Linked DNA regions of Homo sapiens: all the other regions are linked to region 3. Evidence: fine-mapped expression QTL. A gene starts in region 3. Each other region holds a variant in brackets. All regions are shown on one strand. Distances are between the middles of the regions.

The links. PIP is the estimated chance that this variant, and not a neighbour inherited with it, causes the effect.
Region 1: its variant is fine-mapped to the expression of NEO1 in whole blood (TOPMed, PIP above 0.99). The same link has a PIP of 0.9 or more in blood mononuclear cells.
Region 2: its variant is fine-mapped to the expression of NEO1 in whole blood (TOPMed, PIP above 0.99). The same link has a PIP of 0.9 or more in blood mononuclear cells.

Annotation. Positions count from the first base shown.
Region 1 is chr15:72,766,513-72,777,255 of GRCh38, reverse strand. It overlaps ADPGK (ADP dependent glucokinase), which reads left to right. Exons shown (of 7, transcript NM_001365225.1): 2 at 2,159-2,384; 3 at 5,411-5,473. Among named protein-coding and RNA genes, the nearest start is that of ADPGK-AS1, 11 kb to the left of the region's middle. The variant G/T (reference allele first, on the strand shown) is at 4,853.
Region 2 is chr15:72,969,181-72,979,923 of GRCh38, reverse strand. No RefSeq gene overlaps it. Among named protein-coding and RNA genes, the nearest start is that of NEO1, 78 kb to the left of the region's middle. The variant A/C (reference allele first, on the strand shown) is at 5,276.
Region 3 is chr15:73,047,850-73,058,592 of GRCh38, reverse strand. NEO1 (neogenin 1) reads right to left here and starts at 6,130. Exons shown (of 29, transcript NM_002499.4): 1 at 5,788-6,130. The coding sequence starts at 5,917. RefSeq lists silencers at 5,811-6,190, 6,421-6,740, 6,831-6,900, 6,961-7,010.

The DNA.
Region 1 (10,743 bases), 280 kb after region 3:
CTGTCTGAAACTTAGGAACCTACTGGCGTCTGAGAGCTACAGATACTTGTATTCCTGTTGATTCTACCAATCTAATGTTGCATTCATTAGAAATAAAGGGCACCATGTCTGAGGTAAAATTGAGACCAGTTTGCAAGGTGTGTTTGGTTTCTTAACATTGAAGGTTGTGAAAGGAAAGATTTTAAACATATCTTTAAGCAACTGCCACGTGCATGTCCAGAATGGCCCCTTCTGTGTGTGTCATGGAGAAGTTCTGGCTTATATTTTCAGTGTTTCTTTACTAGAAATCATCCCTCTTTTAAAGAGAAGGGCCAAATACAGTAGCTAGATGTTTTATGCACTGAAAGGCATAGTAAATCTTAGGTTATGCTTCTCCAGTTGACCAGAGTCATTATGTGTGTCTTGAACAAGAAACTGAGTATTTAAATGCTATTTGATAGGCAAAACTCCTTTCAAAACATGAATCCCTAGGGGAAGAATTAATAAAAAGGACCCTTATAATGAGGATGCAGTCTCTTTGTGTCTTGAGGGAGGATGTCTCTTCCTTGCCCTTGTAAATCTTCCTTAAGTGATGTAAATAATATCTAGTCTGCATACAAACCTTTTTAAAGTTATGTCATTTTAAAAATTCTAAAAGGAATACAAGCATGTTAAAAGTAGAAATATACCTGGTAAAATTCCTCTTCATCCCAGTCTCATTCCTCTTCATTTTTGAAAGAGACTAAAAGGGAAATACAACTATGTATTTTACACCAAAATCTCATCCATTGGGACATTTTTATTAATGAGTTTACCTTGTGGTTTCAGAGCTGCTCAGAATTAACTCTGAAGCCCAGTCACCCGTATCACTAGGGGTGGTCTCAGTTTGCCGGCTGGGAGCTGCCTGTGTGGTAATCCAACCTCACTGGCCAGAATGACATCCCAATAGGCAGAGGCAGGAATAAAGATGACCATGATAGGGGTAGGGGCGGGAAGACCTCATCTAGCTACCTTAATTATTTGAACGTTCTCTTTAAAAGAGGGATGACTTAGCAAAGAAACCCTGAAAATGTAAGACAGACTTTCTCCATACACACATAGGAGAGGTCATGCCAGACAACCTTAGTACAAGTTGAGCATCCAGAATGCTCTGAAATCCAAAACTCTGGGGCACTGACATGATGCCACTGATGTATATTAAGTACTTATATGTGAAAATTCCACCCACACGTAAGGAATAGAAACTTTATTTCATGCACAAAAGTATTTAAAACATTGTATAAAGTTACCTTCAGGCTGTATGTATAAAGTATATATGAAATGTGTTTGGACTTGGGTTGCATTCCCAAGATATCTCATGTATATGTAAATATTCCAAAATCGGAAACACTCTGATCTCAAGCACTTCAGATAAGGGATTCAACCTGTACTTTATAATTTCCATCGAGACAACCAGGAGTGGCAGGTCTTTAACGTTCATGGGTCAGTCCTGTGAACACTGGCCAAAGGGTGAGTTCTTAAAATGCTGCAGGTGTGCCTAAGTCTGTAAAACACCACTAAATTCTAAGAGGCAGGGTTTCAGCTGGGAGTACTCAGGCATTTAGGAATTTATTGTATCTTACCATCCTCATTTGTTTTTAGAGGGAAGATGCCTGATACCTAGCCTTTGACTGAAACACATATTTTGCTTACTCTGCGCCAATTGCTGTTCCTAAGTATACATTCACTTATTTAATCTTAACCATAGCTCTATGAGTTAAATGCTCATATTATTGCCATTTTGTGGATGAGGAAACCGAGGCACAGAGAAATTAGTGACTTGCCCAAGTCACACGGCCAGCATGAATCCTGTTTGGCTCTGCCAGCGTTTTTCTCAGAAATGTTACATTTTTGTTACAGTAGCTTTGTTCTGAAATGCTAAGCACCTATCTTCTCACTTTGTAACTAGTGTAAAAGTTTGCCAAATTATTGAAGAGTCCTGTGTTCTGATGCTAATACATAAATCCAGTTAAAGTAATTTTTCTCCTGCCATGTGCTGTTTACTTCCCAATTCAGGTTTCAGACCTACTTCCTGTTTTTTCTGTTGAATAAGGTTCTGAGAAACATTTTCCTTTTGTTAAATGCAAAATGGCTACTTGGTGCTTCTGCTGCTTTCACACAGTTTTTTTCCTCCTTCTAGAGTCAATGCATGTGTTGATGTGGTGCTCTCAGGGGTGAAGCTCTTGCAGGCACTTGGCCTTAGTCCTGGGAATGGGAAAGATCACAGCATTCTGCATTCAAGGAATGATCTGGAAGAAGCCTTCATTCACTTCATGGGGAAGGGAGCAGCTGCTGAGCGCTTCTTCAGTGATAAGGAAACTTTTCACGACATTGCCCAGGTTGCATCAGAGTTCCCAGGAGCCCAGGTCTGTTTGGTTCAGCAATAGTAAATTAAGGGTGGAAAAAGATGCCTTTTTAATATGGTTCCTAGAAGCAAGCAAGCAACTTTTCATTCCAGTTTGAAGAGGAGGGGAGCAAAATCACCCCTGGTTGAAAACTGTGGGTCTAGGTTGATGGTTCTCAGACTTGAGCATGTGTCAGAATCATTTGGAGAGGCTGTTGAAACACAGATTTCTGGGCCTACTACCAGAGTTCAGATTCAGTAGATGTGGGATGGGACCCAAGAATTTACCTTTCCAGCAAGTTTCCTGGTTGATCCTGTAGGTCTGAGAACCTCCTTTTGAGAACCACTGGTCTGCAAGGTAGAACCTGTCGAAGTTAGAACCTTAGTGGTTTCCAAGTTCACCTGGTGATTATATACAAAGCCCTGCATGGTCCAGGCACTTCCTGGAGGTTCACGTGGAATAAGAGGCAGTGCTGGGGCTGGAGACCCAACCATGGCTCTTCCTACCTCACCCCAGTATGCCTGCTCCTACATGTACCCTCATGCCTCTTGAGGCTGAGTTTTGGTTGGTTGGTTATCTCCCATGTCTTGCCCCCACCCCATTCTTCCTCCTCATTTAAACCTCCCTTTGGCTGGGCACCCAGTCTGGTTTGGTAGTTCTAGCCAGGGAAGCTCTTAATGCCATTTTTAATTGGCACCTTTCACAGGCAAACCTTTGTGACTACTTTTATTTTGATGACTTAAGATTTTAGGCCGGGCACAGTGGCTCACGCCTGTAATCCCAGCACTTTGGGAGGCTGAGGCAGGTGGATTGCTTGAGCCCAGGAGTTTGAGACCAGCCTGGGCAACATGGTGAAACCCTGTCTCTACAAAAAATACAAAAAATTAGCTGGGCATGGTGGCATGTGCCTGTGGGAGGATCACCTGAGCCCGGGAGGTCAAGGCTGCAGTGAACCATGACCGTGCCACTTCACTCCAGTCTGGGCAACAGGGTGTGACCCTGTCTCAAAAAAATTTTAAAAATAAGTTTTTTGTCTTCGAAGCTGCCTATTTGAACATTAGAAATGGACATAGGCATTACCTAGCTGAGTTTCTAAAGGTGACAGCAAGTTAAGATTTCAGTTATCATTTTGACAACTGGGATCAGTAGTGAGATTCTTATCTCTTATGAGAGAATCTCGATAGTTCTAACATGATGAGTTCACTGCTCAAAAGTCTTTATGATTACGGAATTTAAACCACCAGTTTGATTTCTCTTCTCTCTTGATTCTGCCTTTATTTCTTGATGAAAAAAATTTTTACAGCAACTTGATCTAGCTTTGTGATGGTCCAGGTTATTTCTTAACATTGTAAAACCCCTTTCACTAGAGGAGTGCCTTTTCATACTTCCTTATAGTTTAAGGCAGGTTGATAAACATTATATGAAAATTCTGAAATCCACTTTGTAGATATCTTACTATTTTCCCAAGATTTTTTTTAGTAAATTCTAACTATCGTGGTTGAATAAAACATTAAGGCTGACATGTTAAAGGGCCAAATTTCAGCCTACATATCACAGAAAGTTTTAAATTATCTCTAAAAAGCTATTACTGTCCCACCTGAATTCAGAGGTTAGTCAGCACAAAATTGGGATAAGAGTGATGTCTACCATCTAGAATTGTTTACTCCAACCTTGTCCAGTCTGCAGCCCAGGATGCCTTTGAATGTGGTCCAACACAAATTCATAAACTTTCTTAAAACATTATGAGATTTAACCTCCCCCCCACCCTTTTTTTTTAATAGCTCATCAGCTGTCGTTATTGTTAGTGTATTTTATGTGTGACCCAAGACAATTCTTCCAGTGTGGCCTAGGGCGGCCAAAAGATTGGACACCCCTGGTTTAGTCTATGCCTCTGCGTGGGCTGAGGACTAGGAAGCTGGGATAGTAGCATTCCACCCAGGTAACACTATCAGGCTTTTCAACTTTTATAATAGAACAGCAGCCTTAGCTGTTATGTGTCAGATTTCCAAGGCATATGGATCCATCCTTAGCAACATGGAACACCAACCTTGAATTATTTGTTCTCCAGGTCCTCAGCTGAGAGATGTGGTGTTTAAGGGAAAGTACTGTCCTATATTAGGGGCCCATTATCTTTAGAATTTACTCCCAGGAAAACTTTTATGTTTCCCAACACATCAGTGTGTTTCTTCGTTTCTCAAAATTTAGCAACAAACATTTACTGAACACTTCAGAAGAAGACAGTCCCTGCCCCGAAGGACCTAGTTGTGTACCCAGATGATAGTAGCCCAAGCAGACAAGAGCTGCATTAGAGGTTTGTTCAGGTTATAGGGGTAGGAAGAGATCTGTAATCCTATCTGGTGAGGGCGGTTGTGAAGGCTGAGATGTCAGTGGGGTGTAAGGGGAACAGAGAAGGCATTACAGAAGAGGTGACACTGCAGCTGATTCTTGGAAAGTGATCAGGGTTTTACCTAGTATATGAGAAAGGGAGG[G/T]TGTCCTAATGGAAGGAAACAGCATGTGCCAAAGGCACAGAGACAGGGGAAGGCTGACTTGGAGAGCTGTAAGCAGGGTGTGGAAGGGAAGGGCAGGAGATGAAGGTAGTAAGGAAAACATGGGTTAGATAAAGGCCATATGTGCCTCACTCAAGAGTTAGATTTTAGTTCATTATAGTATCTACTGAATGATTTTTCCACAGGATAGTGAAATTTTTCTTCATTTTAGAAGGACTATAATGTAGACGATAAGCCCTGTCCACACTTTTCCTGTTTCCTGTGTCTCTTCTGGCTGTCTGTAAGCTCAGAGCTGAATTTGATCAACAGTTAAAGCAATCAGACTCATTTTCATGGTTGTCCTATTTATTTTCTTCATCTTATTACTCACTTTCTATTTCTGTGTTGCATTCACTTCATCTGTGTGTCCTTTGATGTAAAATCACCTCAAAATGTTTTTGGGAAATGGACTATAAATTAATTTTTAAAATAAAAAATGATTAAACTTGGGTGATATAGTTGTATTAAAATACTGTCTAAAAGCCTTGAACTCTCTTACAGCACTATGTAGGAGGAAATGCAGCTTTAATTGGACAGAAATTTGCAGCCAACTCAGATTTAAAGGTAGGTCAAGTTTTTAGATTAAAACCTATGCCTTTCCCTAGTGTTTCAATAATTTTAGGAGCAAGAATGAGTATCTATTCCTTGATTCAACTTATGGATCACCTACTATGTACCAGACCCTGGGTCTTTTGTTAGGAAGCAGTAATAGTAGGAGATAGTAGTAACTAATACTTTGAGTGTTTACTCTGTGCCTGACATTGTCTTTAGTGCTTTGCATAGATTATCTAATCCTTGCAACAAACCCTGTAAGGCTAGTCGGTACTGCCATTGTTCTTCCTTTCTGCATGAGAAAACTTGAGGCACACAGAGGTTCACAACTGATTGGTAATGGAATGAGAAATTTAACCCAGGCAGTCTGACCCAATAACCCATGTTCTTAGGCACCATATCATTTAATAGTTAGGAGCATGTGGGCCTTGAGACTAAGGATTATACAAGTCATGAGGGAAAACAACGGTTGGCCGTGTTGGTGAGCCTGGATCCAGAGTGCCAAAAAATAAAAGCCACTAGATGAGAGTCAGTAGGGGAGTGTCTTCAAGACTTAAATTGTTTGGTTTAAGTAGAATTAAAAATCGTTGCCATGTTCACAGTAACACCTGAGTAAGAAGTTTCTCTTGCTATGAGTAGAATAGGCCTGAAGGGGGAGGCCAACAAGAAAGTTATCGCTGTTTTCCTGTATAATGATTAAGGTTTGGATTAGAGCAGCCAGAGAGGAGAAACATGTATCTAAAACCTACTACAATACATGGGGAACAAAGAAGAGATTTATCAAAGATGATTATGGAGTAAATAACCTTGATCAGTGCAGAATGGTTGTGGCCGCTAACACTAGAAAACAGACTGTGAACAGTCTTCTAGTTTTGGGGGACCAGCCTAAAAATAGAAATGTGAGTCAGAGTGGTGGAACCAGAAGCCAGAGATGAACTCAGAAATACGGATAGGTCATCAGCAGTTTCAGGGAAAAATTCATATGGAGCCACACTATACACCTGGAGATAGATGTGCTTTCAGTTTAGAGAGGATATTAAAATGTGAACATTCATATTTTAATAGGAATCAAAGTTCTCATGAAATATTAGGGTAGAAAATACTTTTAAGAAAGAATAATAAAAAGAAAATAAAGACTTTTGCAGTCATTATGTTTATAAATTGTAATTAACTCCCAAATAGAGAAGATTAGAAATTCCAGGGCTGACCTTTGGAAATATTACCAGCTAATGGGTGGAAGAAAAGGAGATTGATCATAAGCCCTTTAGAGAGAGCCCAGGCCATTCCCATCAGAATCCCAGGAGTTTTCATGGTTTCCTAAGAAGCCACCCTCCTGATCCTGAGAAATAATTCTGCCCTCTGGGAAGACAATACCCAGGACGGTCATGGCTGAGTACAAGATTGACCTTTCAGTATTGACCTCCCCTGGGACCAGCATTTGCTCTTGGTCTCTGGAGTAGCTGGTCCTGGGACCAGTCTGATTGGAAGGCATTCTAATAAAACAGGTCTGGCTTTGGTAGGAGACTGAGGAAAGAGAAGCATTCTGTTACTCAATCCTCACAACAGTCTTATGATTTCAAAGACAGAGGTCTAGAGAGGCTAAGTAAGGTGCCCAGGGGCACCTGGCTAGTAAATGATAGAGTCAGGATTCAAGTGTCAGGCTCTGCCTTTACTTCACCCTGTATGCACTCTCAAAGAGACTCAGTTTAACTTTCTGAAATGCTTCTCAACATGGACTGAGAGATCATCTGAGAACTACAGAGATTAAGAACTAGGTATTTTCCAGAGGTGGTAATTATAGCTGGCACTTCCTTCTATAGTTTTTTACCATATACCAGGCACTGTTTTAAGTTTTAGGTGCTTTAAATGTGTATGAACCAATTTAAATCTTCATAGGGCCCTATAAGGGAAGTCTTTTTATTATCCCCATTTTGCAGATAGGAAAAATGAGGCATGGAGAAGTTAAAACTGGTGAAAATCACATACCTGATAATGAGTAGAGTGGGAATTGAACCCAAGTAGTCAAGCTTCAGAATCCATTCTCCTAATAGCCATGCTATATTGCATCTTTGAAATAGACGCTGGTGAATATAGTAAAGGCAGGTTTAGTGGAATGATAGAATAGAAGCCAAATTTCAGGAGAGGAACCGTGCCTTTAAAAAATATACTTGTGTAATCCCAGCACTTTGGGAGGCCGAGGCAGGCGGATTACCTGAGGTCAGGAGTTCAAGACCAGCCTGGCCAACATGGTGAAACCCTGTCTTAGCTAAAAATACAAAGAATTAGCTGGGCATGGTGGCAGGCGCTTGTAGTCCCAACTACTCAGGAGGCTGAGGCAGGAGAATCGCTCGAACCCGGGAGGCGGAGGTTGCAGTGAGCCGAGATTGCGCCACTGCACTCCAGCCTGGGCGACAGAGCAAGACTCCATCTCAAAAAAATATATACTTGTGGAATTAGGCAAGAATTAGGAATAGTTATTTTATTTTGTCAAATGCTTTTGTCAAATTCTGCATTTACTGAGGTTATTGTGTGGTTTTTTGTTTTTTAGTTTGATATATGGTAATTATATTGACTTTCACATATTAAACCAACCTTGCATCTCTAGGATAAAGCTTACTTTGTTCTGATGTATTCATTATCCTTTTCACATATTCAGTTTACTAAAATTGTGTTTAAAATTTTTACATCAATGCCCAAGAATAATATTGGTCTGTATTTTTCTTTTCTTGTAATGTCTGTGGTTTTGCTGTCAGGGCAATACTGGCCTTGTAGAATAAGTTGGAAAGTGTTTCCCCCTCTTCAATTTTTTTTTTTTTTTTGAGAGACAGGATCTGGCCTTGTCATCCAGGCTGGAGTGCAGTGGCATGATCTCGGCTCACTGCAACCTCTGCCTCCTGGGCTCAAGCCATCCTCCCACCTCAGCCGAGTTCCTGAGTATTTAGGATTGCAGACACGTCACCACAGCCAGCTAATTATTTTGTATTTTTTGTAGACTTGAGGTTTCACCATGTTGCCAGGCTAGTCTCAACTCCCGACCTCAAGCGATCCGCCTGCCTTAGCCTCCCAAAGTGCTGGGATTACAGGTGTGAGCCACCACACCTATCTTCTCTTCAATTTTTTTTTTTTCTTAAGATGGAGTCTCGCTCTGCCCAGACTGGAGTGCAGTGGTGGCGATCTCAGCTCACTGCAATGTCCGTCTCTCAGGTTCAAGTGATTCTCATGCCTCAGCCTCCCGAGTAGCTGGGACTACAGGTGTGTGCCACCATGCCCAGCTAATTTTTGTATTTTTTAGTAGAGAGGGAGTTTCACTGTGTTGGCCAGGCTGGTCTCCAACTTCTGATTGCAAGTAATCCACCTGCCTCAGCCTTCCATAGTGCTTGGATTCATCCAATACACCTGGCCCTTTCTTCAATTTTTAAAACAGAGTGAGTGTCGCATTGGTATTGTATCTTCCTTAAATGTTTATAGAATTTAAGCCTTCTAGTGAAGCCTTCTAGGCCCAGGGTTTTCTCTGTAGGAAGATTTTAAATAACTGATTTCTTTAATAGATATAGGGAAATCCAGATTTTCCTTTTTTTTTTTTAAATGAGCTTTAGTAGTTTGTATCTTTCAAGGAATTTGTTTCATCTAAGTTGTTGGATTTATTGGCATAAAGTTAATTATGGTATTCTATTATTCCTTTAAGATCTCTACAATTTGTAATGATGTTTTCCTTCTCATTCCTGATATTGGTCATTTGTATCTTCTTTTTTTTCCTGATCAGCTTGGCTAGAGGTTTATAAATTTTATTGCTCTTTTTAATAAGTAATTAGCTTTTGGTGAATTTATTTTTCTCTGTTTTTCTATTTTCATTGGATTTTGCTTGCTTCAGATTTGACTTGCTCTTTTTCTAGTTTCTTAAGGTGAGAAGCTACAATCATTGATTTGAGACCTTTCCTGTTTTCTCATATAGGGGTTTAGTGCTATAAATTTCCCCTTAAGTACTGCTTTAGCTGCATCCCAAAGATTTTGATGGATTATTTTTATTTTCATTCATTTCAAAATACTAATATCCCTTTGATTTATTGAGATGTGCCATTTAATAGCCCATTCATGGACTACTTAGAGGTATGTTATTTAGTTCCTAAATATTTGGGGATTTTCCAGATGTCTTTCTGTTACTGATTTCTATTTCAATTCCAGTATGGTCAGAAAATATGCTTTCTATGACCTGAATCCTACTAAGTTTTTGAGACCTTTTTCATGGTGCAGAATATTCTATCTTGGTGAGGTTCTGTGTGTACTTGAAAGCTTCAAGAATATACATAAGCCTTTCTGTTGTTGGGTCGAGTGTTCTGTAAATGTCAATTAGATGAAGTTGATTGATAGTGTTGTTCAAGTCTTCTATATTCTTATTGGTTTTTTTTTTTTTGTCTATTTGATCTGTCAGTTATTAAGAGGTATGTTGACGTCTCCAACTGTAATTTTGGATACTTGTCTATTTCCTTTATAGTTCTGTAACTTTTTGCTTTATGTATTTTGAAACTCTTATTAGGTACATAAATGTTTAGGATTGTTACATCCCTTTAATGAATTAATTCCTTTATCATTACTAGGGATAAATAAAATCATTTCATAATATTCTTTGCTCTGAAATCTATTTTGATTGAAATAGCCATTCCAGCTTTCATTTGATTAGTATTGGCATGGTATATCTTTTTCTGTCCTTGTGCTTTTAATCTATTTGCATCTTTTTACCTTAAAGTGTATTTTTTATAGACAGCGTATAGTTGGGGCTTGCTTTTTAATCCACTTTGACAATCTCTGCCTTTTAATCGGAGTGTTTAGACCATTTACATCTAATGTGATTATTGATATATCAGGTTAGGTTTAAATCTAACATCTTGCTATTTGTTTGCTGTTTGCCCCATCTCTATCTTTGTCCCTCTTTTTCTGTACTCTTTTGGATTATTTTCTATGATTTCATTTTATCTTCTCTGACTTTATTAGGTATAATTCTTTTTTTCTTAGTGGTTGCATTAGGGTTTATACTGTACATCTTTAGCTTATCACGGTCTACTTTCAAGTGATAACAGGCATACCTCAGAGATACTGCATGTTTGGTTCTAGACGACTGCAATAAAACAAATACTGCAATAAAATAAAACGCATGAATTTTGTTTCCCAGTGCATTAAAAGGTATGTTTACACCGTACTATCGTCAAGTAAGTGTGCAGTACCATTATGTCTGAAAAAAAGTGTACACAATTTTAGAGTGCTTGGTTGCCAAAAAATGTTAACAA
Region 2 (10,743 bases), 79 kb after region 3:
TTCCAAAGTGGCTGTGCCATTTTACATTCCCACAGGCAATGAACAAGAATTCCTGTTGCTCCCTATCCCCATCAGTACTTGGTATTCTCAGCTTTAAAAAAAAAATGTTAGCGGGCGCCTGGAATCCCAGCTACTCGGGAGGCTGAGGCAGGAAAATCGCTCGAACCTGGGAGGCGGAGGTTGCAGTGAGCTGGGATCGCACCACTGTACTCCAGCCGGGGTGACAAGAGCGAAACTTAAAAAAAAAAGTTAGTTATTCTAATACAGGTAAAGAGCATCTCCCCAGTGACTAACGATGTGATGACTGTCTTTTTATGTGCTTATTTGTTATGCATATGTATTCTTTGATCAAGTCTTTTTATCCCTTTTGCCTATTTTCATTGGATTATTTTCTAATATCGAATTTTGAAAGTTCTCTGTATATTGCTGATTCATGTCCTTTATCAGATATGTAATTTGCAAATATTTTCTCCCAGTTTATCATTTTTCATTCTCTTAACATTATCTTTGAAAGAGTTGAGGTTTCAAATTTCGATGAAATCCAATTTAGCAATTTTTTTCTTTTATAGGTTGAATATTTTGGGTATCATTGCTAAGAACTTGTTCCTTAAGCCAAAGTCACAAATATTTTTTTCTGTGTTTTCTTCCAGAACTTTTATAAGTTTAAGTTTTTCATTTACATGTGAGATCCATTTTTATTAAAACTTTGATTAGAGAGTGCTTTAAGCATTTCACATACGAAGCTGATAGTTGTTACGTATATAGGCGTTTTGCCATGTTTCAATTATGTTTTGGGAAATTATCTTAGAGTTTTGGGTCATCACGAAATGCATTATTCCCCCTTAAAATAATGATCAGTGTTTAAGAGTAGAACTTCTGTTTTTCAGGAACAGATTATTGACGTTAAGTGAGATATGCTTATTTTTGTTAAAATGGGATTTTACCTCATCAATTTTTTTTTTTTTTTTCCAGACAGGGTCTCACTCTGTCACCCAGGCTGGAGTGCAGTGGCACGATCTTAGCTCACTGCATCCTTGACCTCCCATGCTCGGGTGATCCTCCTACCTTAGCCTCCCAGGTAGCTGGGACTACAAGCATGTTCCACCATGCCTGGCTAATTTTTGTATTTTTTATAGAGATGGGGTTTTGCCATGTTGCCCAGGCTGGTCTCGAACTCCTGAACTGAAATGATCTGCCCGCCTCGACCTCCCAAAGTGCTGGGTCTGCAAGTGTAAGCCAACATGCCTGGCCCCAAAATACTGTTTAACGGCAGCACAAACTGTAACTCTTTTCATAATTATTATTCAGTGGCAGAGTTGGAATAAATATGAATGAATCAAACTATATTTGAGTCACAAAGATATGAGTTTGTATGCTTCATTCTCGTCCCACTGAACATCCTTGCTTACAAAATCATGCTACTTTTCTAACAAATGAGTGAAATTTGAATAAGCTGGAGGAAGCAGGTGCCCAGGGGAGGACAGATCTGTTGCACTGTCAGAAACCCCCCTCTGCAAGCACACACACAAAGACAACAGGCACGGCAGAAGGAATCAAAAGAATCAGCCAACTAAGGAGAATCATACAGATTGTGTTTGCACCTGACGAAACTGCGAGTGGGCAAAGCACTAAATCCTTTTTTTGTATCCGCTTGCTATTTTGTTTTAATTTTTTGCTGTGTATAACTCAGATTGGTGTGTTTCTTGCTGGAGATTTTCAACAGATCATCCAGAGCTACATACGTTATCAGATAATTCCTCATGGCATTTATTCACTCATTCATATTTACCTAATATTTACTGGTGTCTACTACATGGTTGAAATCGAATAGTCAATAAGGAAGACACACAGTACATTGGTTCAAGAACTCCAATGATTTGAGAGTGATGAGCAATGGACAGAAGGTTCAAACATGGTGGATAAAGAAGAATCTCTATCATACTCACTGCAGGAATTGGGGTCTATTAATAGGCCACATTGTCAGGGTGCAGTTGTTGAGGGTTTCAGGGGGCTCCAATAAGTGCATGTTGTGCTCTGGAAAGTTTGGTTGATGGTCACAACGGTCTCCTGAAAGTATTCAGTAACAGGAGAAGGTTTTCTCTTGTGTATCAGTTTCCTATTGCTGCTGTAACAATTTATGACAAATTTAATGGCTTAAAAAAACACAGATCTATTATCTTACAATTCTGGAGGTGAGACGTCTGAAATGGGTCTCACTGGGCTAAAACCAAGGCGTTGGCAGGGCTGCATTCCTTTTGAGGGCCCTAAGGGAGAATCTGTTTCCTTGGCTTTTCCAGTTTCTAGAAGCCACCTGCATTCCTTGGCACATAGTACCTTTTCTCCATCTTCAAAGCCAGCAGCATAGCATTTTTCAACTCTTTTCTCTGACTCTGGCATGCCTGCTTCCCTCTTTCACCCAAATCCAGGATAATCGCCCCATCTTAAGAGTCTTAATCACATCTGTAAAGACCTTTTGCCACATATGGTAACACATTCACAGATCCTGGGGATTAGGACATGGACATCTTTGGTGGGAAGTAGGACATTATTTTGTCTACCATACCTTGGGCTTCCTAGACCTATCATTGACCTTGGCTCATGCTCTAAGAGTATGAAGGGCATCATGAGGGGTGCGAGGCCTCAGAAATATCTGGAGGAAGCCAGGCCAGGGAGTCGATGGATGTGTCATTAAAGTGGATAATTGCTCCAGATCCAAGAGATCATACAGGAGCTTACATCAGACCCTGGAACTTCAAGAAGGCTGTATAGTTTCAAGGTCATCCTAAACAGCTGCTTTGTCCCAAGCATGTCTGATCAGTTGAACCAGTCAGTATAGGCTAGCTTATATTGTGATAAAAATGATCCTCAAATCTTGGCCGCTTATAGCAAACTAGGTTTATTTGGTAATGCTACTCATCCAGTGGGGGTCAGAAGGGCTCACCTCTGTGCTCCTTACTCTGAGACCCAGGTTGACAGAGTAGCAGCCATTTCAAACATTACCAGTTGTCATGTCAAAGGGACAGAGAGAGATCATGGTCAGCAGAGGAGTGTCTTGCCCAGCAATTAAATACTTGGGCATAGAAATAACTTCTGTCACTTCTACTCACAATTCGTTGGCAAAGCTAGCAGATGGCTCCACCCAAACCCAATGGGATCAGGAAAGGCAATTTTACCATGAGCCTGGAGAACCGAGAATATTTAGTGAATAGCACTAATAATCACTGCACTTACTGTCTTCTACTAATTCCTGATATGAATGGAGGCTGTGTGCCCACCAGGGCCACTTTTGTATGTCCTAGGAATGATCTGAGCTGATCCAAATGCTAGTGTCAGGTAGAAGCAAATGGCAGCCCTGCATCATCACCATGTTGGCTCCTGACAGGCCTGGTTCATCCTGAGCTGCTCACTGTAAAGAAAGTCCCCGGGAAATGGCAAGGAATTGATATGCCTTTGAACTCCTGCAAACCTGGGTATGAGCCTCTGGAAATCAGCCTTATACTTGACAAGTTCTGTTCCAATATGGCTCAAAGGTTGCAAATTTGCGTGGTTCCTATCCAGGTGGGCTATGAGGGTATTTGCATGGCCCATTGATACCAAGACACTGAAGTGAAGCTGGCAGAGCTATGGGACTCATGCCAGCTACATCTAATTATCAGCAGGAAATAAAAACATGAACATAAGGTGAGCAACAATACCAAGCTCTCATGTATGCCTCCCCTCCAACCCTTGCCACCCGCCTTAAACTCCACAGGTAAGACTCCAAGCATCCTATAGGTGAAAGGTTCCACCAGCACTCCCCATTACCCTGCTGCTGTTGTGGGTGCTTGGCAGATACAACCACCTGGACTACGACCATTTGAAGCAGGTGGTGTATTGGGCCTATGGAACCAGAGTCTGTCTCACAAATTTGGAATGGGATGGATTTTAACCAAAATCTCCTTGCATTTTGGTGAGAAGCCAGAAACACTCTCTGGCTCAGAGAGGAAATTTAGGTGGTAGGTAAAAGGCTCTAGTACAGCTGGTTAATTCCTTTCCCTATGTTTCTTATAGGTGGACACAAGGCCCACCTGACTGGGTCCCCAAGCGCCATGTTTCATGATGGCATTCAAAGGGGGGTTGTGCCCATCTCTATACCCCTCCTTGCATTCTCTCTGCAGTTGCCTGCTTGGGTGGAAAAATAAAGAAGCTACTATACTCCTGCCACTGCTTCTCCTCATACACCTAGTGAGGCAACCCTAGTCCCAGCTTGGGCTGGATAGCAGATGCAGCCAATAGCCAGTGATGCTTTTGAGTGTGTGGCTGCAGTACTGGTCAGTTTACTGTGGCTCACTCGTCAGATGCAAGTGGCTGGTCTGTCCCTGTCCCAGAGCCCTCGCTGCTTGATATTATCTGCTTGAGTGGGTCTCCCTCATTCCTGACAACTCTTGAGTAGACTACTGACAGCTTGTGTGAGAAGACTCACCTCTGTGTCCCCCATCAGGCGTGGGCAAGCAAGTTGTGAAATCACCCAGCTGCAGCCTACAATTCTCTACAGTTGCAAGGAATCCTGGGTAGCAGGACTGTTGTTCCAGGGCAGGTGTGAGCAGTAGTGGTGCTGCAACTAGAGCCATCATGGTCAGTGGGCAAGGATGGTGGCACAAGGTGAGCAGCTGGGCTCTGGCCTCACTGCTGTCCTTAGCTGGTGAAGACCTCTCTGCATGGAGGATTCTCTGCTTTCTTCCTCCTCAGGATCAAGACTGAGTACCTTCAAAACGGAGGATAGATCTTCTTTATCATGCAACCAGTAGGACAGCCCTGGAAGTGTGGGTTCCTACCTACATGGCTTAAGCATCATGTAGATAGGCCACACTACACCGGTGTGAGGTGCAGCTCTGGACTCTGCATGGGTGGCTTCTAAAACAACTGAATGGAAATGTTTTCTGAGTTACTCAAATTTATCTAGATTTTCCCATTGGTAAATGCAAAACCTATATTGCATTGAAGCAGGGCCAATATCTTGGCTGGCAAATGGATTTTAAAATATCTTTGAAGAAGTGAACACAGAGGGCCCAGGGAAGGTTGAGGGGTAACTCCGTTTCCTCCTGTAGAATCTACCTTGAGGTCTGAGGGACACTGGCCACAAAGCACTTTCATATTCTGGCTGTGTGGCCTAAGATTTCCCAGGGATAAGTGATATAAAGGTGACCAATTGATCAATGGAGGAAATTTCTCTTTATAGAAGCAGTCTAGCTAATAAATGAAGAGAATGATAGAATGTCACTATTTTATAACACTT[A/C]ATGATATACATGAAATAGATTTAGACAATGGCACTCAAAGGCTGGTAATATCACACACACAAAATTGACATTATATGCTCTCTGATGAAAGAACACACCACTACCTATAAAGCATTATTGTAAAAAAAAAAAAAAAATCAAACCTGAATTCAACAAATCTCGTCATCTAATTACCAATTAAAAAACAGGGACAGAGGAATGTGTTAAAAAAATACCACAGGGACTGGTGATCCGCAAAATTTAGGCTATGGGAAACTATAGTTCAATAACTTAGTTTATTTAATAAATTTTGAAAGCAAAAGAAAACCTATATGAAGAAAAGACTTAAAGCCACATAAACTGATTATAATGTATGGACATTATTTGGATCCTGACTTGAACTAATGTAAAAATAAATGGAGACACTGAGGACATTTTAACACTGGCCAGATATTTGGAGACATTAGGAATTATTCTTATTGTTAGGTATAATAATGGAATTGTTATATCCAAAAGAGTCCTTATCTTTTGGAGCTATATGCTAAACTAATTACAGATTACATGATATCTGAAATTTGCTTCAAGATCGTCCAGGTAGAGCAAGAGGTAAGGAGTGAAGGTAAAAGCAGCTGGGCATGTAATTGAAATAAGTCTATTTGGGAGGCCGAGGAGGGCGGATCACCTGAGGTCCGGAGTTCGAGACCAGCCTGGCCAACGTGGTGAAACCCCATCTCTACTAAAATACAAAAATTAGCCAGGCGTGGTGGTGTGTGCCTGTAATCCCAGCTACTCAGGAGGCTGAGGCAGGAGAATCATTTGAACCTGGGAGGTGGAGGTTGCAGTGAGCTGAGATCACACCATTGCACTCCAGCCTGTGTGACAGAGCGAGACTTCATCTCAAAAAAAGTGTGGCTGTGAGTTGACCATTGTTGGAGTTGGGTGATGGGTAAAGGGGGCATCATATTATTCTCTCTACTTTTGTATATGCTTGAAATTTTCCAGAAGAAGAGGAGGAGGAAGTGTGTGGAGAGAGAGAGAGAGAAAGAGAATATAAATCGGATTGTAAGGCAGGCGGTCAGGCAGAGGAGACTGGCAGCAGGGGTGGAGTAGAGGGCTGTGAACTGATGAGAAGATCAAGGGGTCAGACTCCAGGGGTCAGTGTCTGGGGCCTTCCATGCATAAGACTCACCTGATTGGAAGTTCTCCTCCCACCTTTTCCTGGACTGTACCCCCAAACCAATATGTCTCAGAGTCTGAACAGTAAGAGGCTGCCACCAGCACTTCTGATTCAAAATAAGAATAACTAACTACCTGTCCCCCTGGAAATTACCAGCATGCTTCTCCTTCTCAGGTGGGGAATGTCTGGTTCTTCCTTTGACCAAGGGCAGTATTTCTAGTACTGTGTTCTCAGAAGAATCAGTCACAGGCCAAGCATGGTGTCTCACGCCTGTAATCCCAGCACTTTGGGAGGCTGAGGCAGGTGGATCACCTGAGGTCGGGAGTTCGAGACCAGCCTGGCCAACGTGGCAAAACCCCGTCTCTACTAAAAATACAAAAGTTAGCCAGGTGTGGTGGTGTGTGCTTGTAATCCCAACTACTTGGGAGGCTGAGGCAGGAGAATCACTTGAACCCAGGAGATGGGGGTTGCAGTGAGCTGAGATCACACCACTACACTCCAGCCTGGGTGACAGAGCGAGCCTCTGTCTCAAAAAAATAAAAAATAAAATAAATAAATAAAAAAAATTAGTCATATATCCAGAAAGATTCTCAGTAGGACTGAGGGCAGCTCAGGCCCCTTAATAAAAACTATTTGAAATGCAGGGAATTGTGAGAAGGAAAATCAAAGCCTAAGACTGAACCAGCAATTAGATCAGCTCCTGGAATATATTTAAGTCAAATCAATCCATGAGGGAATTTCCGTCACAGCTCACTTTCCCTCTCCTACAGCCCATGGCTGGAATCATAGCCTTTCAATCAGAGCTCACCAGAAATACAGCAATATCCATCTTCTAAAATGCTTCATCATAGTTTTGCAAAGTCCCGGTACATCCCCTCTGCTCTTGTGGATTTATTTACATATTGATTTATTTATTCCTCTCTCTACAGCAGGCTAGCCTCTTGAGATTATACCATTTCATTTACAAAGCCATTGGGGTCATGCATCTGGACAACGAAGCCAAGGGGAAGGCTGTCCTTGGATGTGCTGAGCTACACAGATCAGACTTGTCAGAAACAAGTGTGGGAAGTGGGTGCAAAGAGTCAGCCTCCAGCCTGGGACTCCCATAGTCATCTTACCACAAAAAGAGAGGGCTGGCTTACACCGAAGGGAAGAAAACAGCATGGGAGGTGACAGAAAAAGCAGCAAGGAAGCCCTGGGTGTGACCTCTATGAATCCCTCCAGTTGAGGAGTGGGGTCTCCCTACTGCAATCCCAAATGGTGCAGTGCCCCTATCAGCAGGCAGTTACCTTCATCTCTTTCCAGGGCCTGAACAGTACAGACCCCTCGGGCTCCCCACAGATTACTTCTCAGCCGGAGGAGGCTCCGCTAAGAGAGAAGAGAAAGAAGAAGAAAGAAAAAAGAATGCACAGGAAAAAGGTCTGGAAGAAACTGAGTTGAGGGAGAGAAATCTGTTCCCTGGCAAAGGCCCCAGGCTGCAAGAAAAGCCTTCCAACACTTTTTTATAGATGCCTTTTTTTTTTTTTTTGCTAGGAAAGCTAAAAGCTGGAAAATTCCCTTCGTTCTGATTAGCATTCTTATCACTCTGAGTTTTCCCCCTCTTCTTCCAGTCTCATGAGTGCTTTTCTTTTTAAGAGAAGGATTCGCTGAGACACAGAGATGACATCTTCCGAGTGATCATTAAAGAATTCTCATTGGCATTGTTGGGCACACTCGGGTTGTCAAAGGAGGTGCCCCTTCTTACCAGGTTACTGGTCAAACTACAGAAGCCGAGGGTGCCCGGAACTTGACTTTCAACTTCCTTTTCATGGGGGAGGCTTTGAGACTTCGATGTTTAAAAGGATATGTTTGCGTTTGCGTGGGATGGGTATGTGGATGACAAGCTGTCAGGAGAAAGTCAACAGCAAGGCTGGGCAGCTTTCTGGGCAGGACATGTGTGTTCGTCTTGTGGCTTGAACTTCTAACTGAGGTTTGGAGTTGGAACCAGAGTCTGTCCACTTCTTAAAGGGGCAGTACCCGGAGGGAGAGTATGATTAACTGAACTGTCCTGGCTGAAGCCTCCTAGACCAAAAGCTTCCCTCTGAAGACTGCATTCTTGAACCTGCCACCTCAGGGGTCTGAAGAAAAAGTAAAAAAACGAGCTTCATCTGGGAAAAGTTCAAGATAATATGTCTTGGCAAACATAATGAAAAACACAGACAGTTGCTTTAAGAGAGGGACCCAGAAAGAGGTCAGGTTCTGCTGAGAGAGGCAGAGCAGCAATTAGATGGGAGCTTATGTTGCAGCATGGAGGCAAAGGGGTCAAAGAGAGGGTAGAATACTCTGCATCTGATTTCAGGAAGGGAGCACCACATTGCAGCCGTGCTGAGCTCAGTTATTGGGGAGGAAATGTAGAGGTACAGGGAATCCGAGGGCAGTGAGAGGAGCTGGATTTATGAGGACATATTAAAGAGCTCAGAGCAGTGTATGCTGCTCGGCTGGGCAGAGAGTTGAGGTTTTATGCTAGCAGTGGGCCCAGCCACGTGTAAATGGTGTAGTCAGTGAGAAGGAGGGGAGTTATTTACTCTGATTTGAGGTTTCAGAATTAAGAGTTCTCACTGGAACGCTTAAAATAAAATTTGCAGTCAAAGAGAGAAATACATGCCACTGAATTCCATCAGTTTGTGGAATAAATACTCTTCCTAGGGAAGCATTGGAAAAATCATGTTATGAGATACCTCCAATGACAGAGGAAAGATTAGCACCAAATTTATAAATCATATAACCAGGATCTGCTGAGAAACCGTAACTTTTAATCTTAGGACTTAGGATCAGCTAACTTGAGAAGGAATCTGAGTCATAGAGGGGGTAAAATGGGAGGTGTGATTTCTTCCCACTAAGCAGAATGGGAAGTAATCTCACACTTCTGGCCCCAAACCCTTTCCCAGGCTCATGCTAAAACAATTATTGGAGCCAGAGGAGAGAGAAAAACCTTTTTACCCCAGGATTTAAAATATGCTATTTACCAATAACTTATTTTAAAAATGGGTTATGCAGGGGAAAGAGTTACGAGTACATAACCTGTCTTTTCCCTAGGAGCTATATATTTCAGGGTAACTAAATAGCCCAGTTGATGAAGGAAAGCTCTTTTACAGAAGAGTGCACGCTAATAAGTGAAGAAGGAATGATGGGATTGGAAAATCACCATTCTGCAACCCCTATGGGATGATTGATTCAGGCAAAGACCATCAGTGGTTGTAAGATCAGCTGGTGAGAGGTTAATGGTGAGCTACATATTTACAGGGCATCAACTACCGCCCCAGTTTATCTGCTAGTTCCAAGAGGAGAAAACCCTTAACTTTGCAATAAAGGGATCAGGCAAGCCATCACCATTTTAATCCAGTGATCAAGCCCAGTGTCACTGATAATAGGCCAACTTGACATGACATCCCTCCTTGTGTGATACAGTGCTAAAGTACATAGCATCATCTATGAGGTTTTCTGGATAACAAGGTTTTACCTGAATCACATCAAGACTGTAGAATTAATTTCCATCTCATGGGAAATACAGGGGAGACAGGAATTTGTTAGGCATCACCTCAGTGGTAAATCAATCAGGCAAATCAAAAAAGTGGGACATTCTACAGTACGGTCAGTTTTCTGTATCTGTGGATTCCACCAACTCTGCATCAGAAATACTAAAAATAAAAACAATAATGCAAATTAAAAAGCAATACAATAACTATTTATACAGCATTTACATTGTATTAAGTACTATAAGTAACCTGGAAATGATTTGAAGTACATATATGGGAGGATATGTGTAGGGTACATGCAAATACTACACTATTTGATATAAGGGACTTGAGCATCCTCAGATTTTGGTATCCTCAGGCATCCTGGAACTGATCACCCATGGATACTGAGGGACAGCTGTATCTTCAATAAGTCAATGTCATAGAAAGCAAAAAGGAGTGGAGGTGCTATTTTTAGATCAAAAGAGACTTAAAAGACCTAATCACCGAATGTAGTTTTGATCCTTTATTCAGTCAAGGAATAAAGCTGGCATAAGGAAATGAGCTGTAATAGGATATTTTGGGGAATTATTGAAGAACTTTGAGTACCGTGTAGGTGTTATATATTTACAAATTATTAATTTTGGATATGATATCATTATAAAGAAAATGTCCTTATTTTTTAGAGACACAGTGAAATATTTAAGGATGAAGGGTCATGATGTCTATAATTATAAACCACTTGACCAAAAAATGACAGAGATAGATGCAGAAAAACACTTTGTCACTGACCAGAGGAAAAAAATGAGAACAAGCA
Region 3 (10,743 bases):
ATACACACACAAGTTAACTTTTCACCAGCAATCCTATATGGGGGAATCCAAAATATAGAAAGAATATGTTCATCACAGCATTCTTTATCACAGCAAAACAGTAAAAACAACTTCCATATCCATAACAGGAGAATACACAATTAGCAGCAGAATGCAGAGGAATAAAGAACATAGGCTTTGAAGTTGCAAAAACCTGGATTCCAATGCCAACTCTTGCACATGAAAGGTTGTGAGACCTTCGGCAAGGCACTTAATATCTGAGACTCAGTTTCCTCATCTGTGGAATGTGAAGAAATTGTCATCTTCCTCACAGGACTGTATAAAAGATTAAATACATGTGAAAGAGCATGGCACAATGCCTGGAAGTCAGGGAGTGTTCTGTAACTACTACTTTAATTAGCCACTATTATTATATTTGCTCCCTGGAATATTACACACACATTTTAAATAATGGTTATAGGAAAATCTGTATGTACTGGCATGGAACGATCTCCAACATACTAAGTGAAAAAGCAAGTTGAAAAAACAATAGGTAGTATGATCCTGCTTATCTGTAAAAAAATAAAACCATACACACATATGCACATGCAAGGGAAGATATTAAAAGGGGTTACTTATGGGTTTCAAAAATGGAATTTGTGGGTAGAAGTGATAAAATCTTTTATTCTATGTATTTTTATATTGTTTGACTGCAAACAAACATATATTTATGTATTTTTAAATAAGTTTTTAAAATAAAATGATTTAAAGATAATGTGACAACAAAGAAAAATGGTATAATGTCAAAGGAAAACATTTCAAGTTATACATACACCATGATTACAATGTAAAAAGATAATGTGCCATATAGGCAGTAAGTAGAAAGAAATATACCAAAATCATACCAGTGGGTCTGAATGCCTTTTTTTGTCACTATTTACAAAATTTTTGAATCAAAAAAACTCTCTTCATTCTAAATGAATCCAAAATTTGAGCTCTATTTTAAAATCATCTTTCACTAGCTATGTCCATGACAAAGTTAATTTTTCAAAATCGTAAACACAAAACTTCTCCTCACTTCACTTAGCTCTCCGGTCAATATGATCTTACCTACAGTCATTTCCTCTGACTGTTCTCCAATTATTGATGCAATTTTACCCAGAAACCTAAACACTTACCAATGATATGGTAAATAGCTCCCAATCACATGGAAGTCACTAATAAAATAAAGTGTTTGGAAAAAAGACTATTAAATACAGCCTCCATATAATGAGATTTATTAAGGTTACCCCAATATTTTCATTGAGGTAGAGAAAAACTCATAAGGAAGAAACCAGCAATGATCAATTAAGCCAAAAGAAAAAAAAGTCTACACTTTCAAATAATTTAATATAGTATATTTTTAGAGTTCACAAAGAAACACTGAAGCCATTCTACATAGGTACAGTACTTTATAGTTTATGAACAATTTTACATTTTATTTTTCTGACAATCCAGTTAGGTAGGTAAGGTATTATTCTTGCCTGCCTATATCCCCCAACTTACAGATGTATGTGAAGTTGCAGAACCACAAGTCATACCCCATATCCTCTGCCTTCATGTATGTCTTTTCACTATCTCACATCATGTATTAATTTTCATACAGTTTATGAAAATCAGTCATATTTCTTATCTTCTTTGAGCATTCATCCCAGAATTCTATGATCTCTTTTGTGCCTCATTCTAACAGACAGGCAGAGCAACGCCATCAGTCTTTTCTTTTAGATGACTCAGTAAGATCAAAGATCTTTCCAAAGATGACAAAACTAAAAAAACGCTAAAACTACAGCATATCCAGGAGGATGACCAAGATCACAAAAGATCTGGAAACTAAGTAATGTGAAGAGTGGCTGAAGGAATTAAGGATGGTTAACTTAAAAAGGATAAGGTTTGAGGGGAAGGGCAGGGGGGGCCCACACACACATGCACACAGGAAATGTGATTAGACACATGAAGGGCCATCATATAAAGGAATCAGATTTGTGCTGTATGGCCCTACGGGTTAAAAACAAAGGCAATTCAACATTCAGTCAACAAACATTTACTGGTTATCTTCTCTATGCTACATGTTAGTGCTACACTAGGGAAACAAAGGTGAATAAGACAACCCGGCCAACCCCTTCAGAGGTTGAGACTAGCAGAAAAGACAAGAAAATAAGTAACAGAAGATGAAAAGTACTCAGGAAGCTATGGGAACACAGAATAGTGACCATAACTCTCTTTGGAAGAGAAAGCTGGTAGAGAAAAATTCATTGACTAGATAAGGAGTTTCAGAAGTGGACAAGGTGAGAAGTGACTTAACAGAAAGAACAGCATGTGCAAAGGCACGGAGATCTGAAGCTGTGTCGTTAATCTGGAGTGGTGGAATGCAAGGTGCATGTTAGGGGTGACAAGAGATGAGGCTTTATTGGGTTTGGGAGAACAGAGGTAAAGAATACAAAGGGCCTCACAATCTCCATGCCAAAGAGTTCTAACACCCAAGCTACAGAACACTAGTAACAGATTTTAAGTAGGAGAGTGGCATGCTCAGGAAAATATTTCAGGAAGCTCATTCTAGCAGGACAGACTTCTAGAGGGTAACAGTACAGACAAAGAGATTAATTATGGAGCCACTACTGTTAGTCCAGGTGGGGATGAAGATGAAAAGATACCGATTCAGAGTCAAGAAACAGCTGAGAGGTAAAAAGCAAAAAGAACTATCCGCTATGGCAATGGGAAGAGGAGGTCTTCTTGATCTCAGCTTGGGCAAGTGGATGAACAGTGATGACCAAGACAGGCAACACAAGAAGACAAATCCATGCAATCCTTCCAACAACATGAGACACAGGGGCCAGGAACTGGTTTGTTCATGTTTAGAGAATGGGGATGAAGGAAGCACGAGGGAAAATGACACAGAGTTTAACTTCGGACTTCAGTAACCTAAGATCCTATTTAGTGAAGGTACCGAGTGGCAAGTGAGAAAGTGTGGACTAAGAGAGTCCTTAGCTTACAGGTGGCAACTGAGGGCAAACAGAGTATGTATAATGAGATAAGCTTTAGATACTAATATTTAAGTGAGTGAGTTCAAGAAAAGCCAGAAAGACAAATGAAGAATTAATCAGAGAAGAGATTAACCTGAAGATAGAGTAATGCTGAAAAAGGTAAGCAAAGAGGAAAAAATGTAAGAAGGGTGGGGAGGGTGAAAACTACAGTGAAATGTACTGTACAAAGCAACATTTTCTAACAGAAGTTATTCAACACAGAAATGGACTACCCTGTAAGGCAATGAATCACATCATGAAATAAATGGTTCAGGCAGAAGCTACAGAGTCCTCGGTGAAGAATGTTCACTCTAAATAGAGAAGACATGCATTGCACAGGCTGCTGCCATGTCATCTTCCCCAAGGTCTCTACATATCTTTTCAGTAATCTGCCCTTTTTCAGAATACCAGATTATGTTCCTACTCAATTCCAACCCTCCTCCCTTGCTGACCATTTTCTATCACCAGTCCTTTACTTCTTACTTTTTCCTCCACCTCCGTATGTCTATAACCTCAGATGGAAAAACACTTTCCATTTATCCTATTGTCCCACATCTCTATTTTTCTCCACCTTCTACTACTGAACATGTCCACTTCCCTACAATCTATTCACTATAATCCCCTATAAAAAGATTTATAAGTCTATCACTCTACAAAAATAAAAAAAATAAAACTACTGACAAAGGACATCTGATTTGCGGACAGCTTGTTCCAGTTGCTGCTTACTCAGTTCTCCAGTCTCTTGATCTCTTCCGCAGTTTTATGGCAGAACTGACCAACCCCTCCTTATTGCAGTTATTCCTCTCGCTTTTGTAATGAAGCAGAGCGGTTTACAGGAAGGACTCTGGACCGAGAATCAGGAGATCTATGTTCTAGACCCAATTAAACGACTAATTACCTGTGAGCCTCCCCACCTCCACTCCTACCCACTCCTCAGATCTCAGTTCTTGTGAGACACTCTTAACACCCAGACTAGGTTATGTCACTCCAGTACCCACTTTGTGAAAACCTATTCTCCTTTGTAGTGCTTATCACAATTACTTAATTATATAATCAGTAGATGGATGGCTATCTTTCCTACCCACACACCAGACTGTAAACTCCATGAAGGCAGAGAGCATATGCCTTGCACCTCATCTGTGCAAAATAAAAACCTGTCAATTGAGTTAATGTTGAAACAGATGTTAAGACCACTTCCTGAGACTGCTTGCATTATTTTTATTATCCTAAGTAATAAAATTACTAGCATTTTAGTTACTTACAAAATTATCGGCAAAACTTTAAACAAAAACTTGAAATTTGGTGAACTACATATGAATTTCCATATAAAATAGATCATGAGTAACAGGAACTTGTTTTCCAAAATAGTTATATTTCTCTTGCTCATCTAAGAGACAGTTGGATCAGTAACCTGCATTTCAGCACCAAAATGTGTTCTAAACCATATACGGACTGAATGTATAAGGGTACATCATGACATAAGTGATGTTTAATTTGACATTAAAACACTATTGTTTACGTAGCTGTTTAGAGAATACCGAGTGGTACTTTACGTTTAAAGCTGTTCTTTAACATTGGCAAAAGCCATGAGCTACATACACACTCTGCAAGGAAATGAAAAGTTTATCAGTCAAGTTACCTTGCAGTGTGATTTTAAATATTATTTCATATAAATCAGGGAAAAACAAGTACTGGTTCAGCGGTAAGACTGCTTTCAAATGTAAAAATATCATATCTCACACGAGTGAAAGTTTTGTCAAGTTTTATGGTACACCACCTTGGTCAAATAATTTTAACAGATTACATGCTAATTTGCCTTTCAACTGCTGAGTGTATCCTGCTCAACAATACCGTAAGGTCCTTCCCGGAAGGCTTGGCATTTTTGTTCGTTGGTCCCCTTAATAGGAATGCAGGTGGTTTCAGTAATCTATAATATTCCAAAAAAGAACTGAAAATGGCTTTTGAGGTTCAATGTTTATACAATGCCATCTGAAAACATTGTACAAGTACCTAAAATCTGATGCTTAGACAATTCCCTTGGTTAAGAGTGGTTAATAGGCTGTAAATATAGTTGTAATCCCCAGGAAAGAAGAGGCATTTCATAACGGAAACACTAACAGATACGATCACTCCGAGCCGCTCTCCAAGGCGTCCTCATCGTTAAATCAACACCAGGGGTTGTGAGCGGGCAATTGTGCCCCTCTGACACCCCCGCTCTTCCGCAGACTCGGGCTCCAATCCCCGCGCGAGGAGTCCCTCGAGACTAGCCAGCTCTTCCTCGAGACTTCGGAAGCTGGGAAATCCCTGGCCAGGGAACCAGGAGCTCAAGCCCCCTCCCCTTTCCTTTCCTGAAAATTAATGAATTGGCCGTCTGATTGTTTATTTAATGAGGTGTGTAGTGGCCTCTACTGGTGCTAGTGTGAGCACAAGAATGTCCCACTCTTACAAGTGGGATGAGCCTGGGGGAGGGGAGAGAGGCGAGGGGTGAACCTGCCTCCAGGTACAAAGCTGGGAACTAGACCCCTGCGCCCCCGACCTGCCCCCCGGCAGCCGCCCCTTCCCCGGTGGCGCCCCCTCTCGCCCTTCTCCTCCCCACCACGCGCGATCCCCTTTCTCTTCGGCAACCGGAGCCGAGGCAGAGAAGTTCCTGCACGTTTCCTCCTGGATCCTAAACAAAAACACCGCAGCCGCGGCCGCCTGAGCCGGTGCCGCGCCCCCGCGAACCCCCGGGCCCGCGCCCGCCGCTTACCTGGGGACTGCGGCGCGGAGCCGCTCCTGGCGGCCGCGGCGCCCGGCGCCCGGCGCCCGAGCAGCAGCAGGCAGTAGAGCCAGAAGGAGGGGGTGCTGAGGAGTCGCCGGGCTCCCCGCTCCGCCGCCATCTCTTCCCCGAGAGTGAGCGGCAGCGGCGGCGACAGCGCCGCGGAGCCCTTGCCTCCTTCCCTCCCGCGCGCCTCAGCCGGTCCCTCGCTGCAAGCTCGGCTCCCGCGGCCGCCGCTGCTCCAGCCCAGCCCGGCCCGGCCCGGCCCGCGCAGCCCCTCTCGCTGGAGGGGAGACTCCAGGGCGCCTCCCTCCTGCAAGGGGGCGGGGAGGGGAGGAGAGCGAAGAAGGGGAGTCAGTACATTCCGGGGCGGGGGGGGGGGGGCGGTGGGTCGGTCTCCAGGTTCCAGGCGCCGCCACCCGCCGCCGACTCCGGCTCCACACACCAGCGCGAGGGGGGCGGAGACCGCGGACGGCGGGGGCGGGGGCGGGGGCGGGGGGCGGGAGTCCCGGGCGCGCACACGCGCACGCGCGCGCCTCGCCCGCACCCCCTCGGCTCCGCGCGCGGCCCGCCCCCGCTCCAATCCCGGCTGCCGCCTCTCGGGCCGTGGCGGGCCCGCTCCCCTCCCCCTTCTCCCCGGAGCCGCTGACGGGTGCGGGGCGCGCGCGCCGGGCGCTGCTGCTGGCGTCAGGGAAACCCCGGAGAAGCGGATCCTCCTGCTCCTCCCGCCCGCTCGCCGCAGCCCCTCGGCTCCGCGCGCCCCCGCCTCCTCCTCCTCGCCTCGGGGACAAATTCCCCCCTCACCTCCCCAGATGCCTCTGGCTGCAGAGACCTGAGGGCGAGAGGCGCTCCGAGCTCAGGCTGGTCCGGGAGGCCGGCGTGGGCGCGCACCTCTGCACAGTCCGGGCCTGGAGCCTCTATATAGGGCCTCAGAGGAAACCGAAAGGCCTCCGGGAGGAAACCTGGGTGCGCAGTGGGTCGGCCCGGGGATTTATGTGCTCGCCAAAAACAATAGCGATCCCGCCCGACTCTTGCTGGGCCCTGGCGCGGCTCCCGTGGGAGGGGGCCGGCCGCGCAGCCGCTGACCTCCGGCTCCCAAGCCGGGCCGCCGTCGCCGCGCGCTTCCCCCGGGCAGCGCCGGGACCCGCCCGAACCGCGCCCCCACCCGCATCGCTCGGCCCGGGTCCAGGGAACTAGGCACAGACAAAGGTGCCCGCTGTCCACTTCCTCAGCTCGTGCGGGGGCCCCGACCGAGCCCTGGGACTCCCCGGGGCCAGTCTTCTCGCAGTAACTGCTACGTTTTACCTGTACCTTTGCGGGACACTTGGCGTTTTCCTACCTGGGAATCACGTCTTTCGCTGATAAACCAAGGAGCAAGTGGGATATGATTTTAAACCACTTAGTAATCGTGAGGCAGCACCCAGGCTACACAAAGTTAGGAGAAAGCAGTTTGTAGTTCCACTGCTGATGAGACTATTGATCATTTTATATACTGCACCCATGAAAAATTTTTAAAGAAAATTTATTTGTATGATTATGCAAGCAGAGTCACGTTTGGTGGTTGATAGGCGTTGGGTTTTATTCACTCTTCTGTGTAGTCGATAACCGAAATGTCTTGCTTCCCACAAGAAAATGGCTATTTCACTAACATATCCCTCTGTGCTTTCTCATAGTTACTTTCCAAAGATATTTTATTCTAAAGCGCCAAAATGAACAATGTAAGACATGGATTAACGTCGGGAGGGAAGAGCTCAGAATCTTCATAAAACCTTAAATCATCAAAACGGTGAAATTAGGAATTCTCATGCTAGTTCTTTGAAACAATTGACTTAATAGAGGAAACACATGCTTATGGTTTTTCACTAGGGAAACCATTTAAATACCTTTTTGTTTTGGTTAGAGTTGTTAACCAGCAAAAATATTTCCTAAATACCCGTGATTGACCTGTTAAATTAGAAATAGATTACCTCCCAATTACTTCACAAGTATTTGCTTAATTAACCTTTAATAATCACATCATTATTCAGTTTTCTGAGATAATTAATGAGAAAAGCTCTTTGAAAACTGTAAATTGCCTTGCAAATGTTAATTTCCTGATATCTTTTCTAAGTCTGGAAAAATTTCATTATATTAAACCTATAACGTGTAATATGACTTCTGAGATGAAGCTTACATTTATCTCCAAGTTTTGAAAAATACATGAGTTGTGGCTAATAACAGACTGATTTTCATATATGACTTATATGAACTGTCTCACTAATTTATCAGCCCACTGTGTATATCAGGTTAATATCAAAAAGTTTAAAACAGTTGTATATTTCTGGCTTCTGATTAAATCACAATTTTAATAAAACCCACTCTATTAAACCACTAGTAGATGGAGCCCCAGATTAAAGCTACAGATCCTAAATCAGTTCAAGATAGTTAAGTAACTCAGGCACACACTTGAATTCAGCTCCTTTACTTTGTTTCAAAGTCACTGACACTGTCGACATGCCCTTTAAAAATCATCATTGAGTAATTAACCTGTTCTTTGTTTAGTAAAGCATATCTGAGAAAAGATTTTCTTAGGCATCTCTTTTATCATTCTTATTCTCCCAACAAGATTTTCAACAAATACTTCAGCCTGCACGTATACTGCTAATCAACACTTTTATGTTGTCTAAACTATCAATCTATGAAGAGATATTAAACCACTGGTGAAATTAACAGTTTTTTCATCTAAGTAAAGTTAGAACATGAGGCCCATGTTCAAGGAATAAGTGCACAAAGAAACTTTAGAGCAAAGAAAACAGAGTGGCCATTGTGTGTCTGTAAAAGTTATCGAAATGCAGGCCAAAAATAACTAGACTGATATCTTGTGAAATTTATGCTAATGTATTTTGATATAAAAATTACATGAAATATTAAAGCCTATGAATATAAAACTTGGTAGGAATCTTATTCTCTATAGTAAAAGGATTTTTTTTTCAACATTAGAAAGGACGTACAATTCAGTGTTTAACTGCTGGCAGTAATGAGATTCTGCAGCTGATTCCCTGGCTGAATCCCAGTGTCCGAGGTTGAGAAGAAGAAAGCTAGTCCCCTGACTAGCAGATCTCAGGATAGAACACTTCCTAGTCACAGCAGACTTCAACTAGAAGTTGCCCCAGTCTTAAGAAAGTGATTTTCTTCTGCACAGAGATTGTTATTTTTATATTTGCCCTTTACATTCCACTAGGTAAGAATTTTTATTTTCTCCCGTTCTCCTTCAGAAGCCACCTGCTCTAGGGAGCCATCTCTGATTAAGCGTAATTAAAAAGGATGTGTGCTCCTTTTTAAGTACAAGCATGCTCAATATTAATTTTGCTTGTCACATGTTGCTTAGTTGATCACATATCTTTAGTTCAACAACAATCTATTAATTCAGCAAAAATTATTGAGGACCTGTTTTCACCAAGTATTGTGCTGGATGCTGGGATAACAAAATTATTGGTTCATTCATTTAATATTTATAAAGTACATCCTGTGTCTCTGGTCCTGGCTTATGTTAAGGGAAGACAGTGATGAGCCAGATAAACAAAGTTCCCAGTCTAGCAGAAAGGGTAAACAATTATAACAAAGAAGTGTAAAGACTGTTATGGTAAGGAAAGATAAGGAGTGTGGGAAAACTTAGTAAGAGCATCTAACTTGACTAAATTGTGTGTGGGGGTGGGAGAAGGAGAATTAGAGAAGCTTTGGCCTCTAAACAGAGACCTGAAGGTAGATAGGAGTCAGCCACGCCTACAGGTGGGATTTGACCTCAGATTTGCGTTTTAGAGGGAACACTGAGGCTGCTTCTTGGAGTGTAGTTTGGAAGAAGTCGAGACCAAAAAAAAAAAAAAACAGTTCAGATTTTGTTACAATAGTCTAGGGAGGAGATGATGGTGGCCTGGAGTAAAGCAAAGGGGATTAAGAAAAGTGAACAGATAAGAGAGAGATTTAGGAGATAGATAGAAACAGCAGGGGTGTGTGGGAGAGATAGGAGATGTGGGTAACTCAGATTTCAACTTGGGAAGCTGAATGAAGGTGGTGGCATTCACTGAGGGGGGAATGAGAAAGATGAGCAGATGGGAGACAATGTTAGTTTAACTTTGGACAAGGAAATTTAAAGTACCTATGCATACATAGGTACTTTAAATACATCTGAGTAGAAATATCAGTAAGCCGTTCATTACTTGGATCTGGAGTTTAGCAGGGAGATAGGACTGGAGAAGTGAGTCATCAGCATACACTACATATGCCTGAGTATAAGGTGCTTCTGAAAATAAGGTGAGCCTCCATTTTTCCAATTAGAATCCACCCCACTCCCCCAGGCCCCTCGGCGGCTCACACCTGTAATCCCGGCACTTTGGGAGGCCGAGGCAGGCAGATAGCTTGAGCCCAGGAATTCAAGACCAGAGTAGGCAACAGGGCAAAACCCGGTCTCTACATTAAAAAAAAAAAAAAATTAGCTAGGTGTGGTGGCGTGTGCCTGTAGTCCCAGCTACTCGGGAGGATCACTTGAGCCTGGAGGTCAAGGCTGCAGTGATACATTATTTTGCCACTGCACTCCAGCCTGAGTAACAGAGCAAGACCATGCCTCAAAAAATAAAAACAAAAACAATCCCCCCCCGTAAAACTTTGTGGCCAACTTGAACAGATAAACTTTTAGAGATATAGATGAAATAATCAGGGCTCTGCAGCTATAAAAAAGAATGAGATCATGCCTTTTGCGGGAGCATGGATGGAGCTGCAGGCCATTATCCTCAGCAAACTAGCACAGGAACAGAAAACCAAATATCGCATGTTCTCGCTTATAAGTGGGAGCTAAATGACAAGAACTTACGAACACAAAGAAGGAAACAGCAGACACGGGTCTACTTTAGGGTAGAGGGTGGGAGGAGAGACTGGAGCAGAAAAAATAACTTTTGGGTACTGGGTTTAATT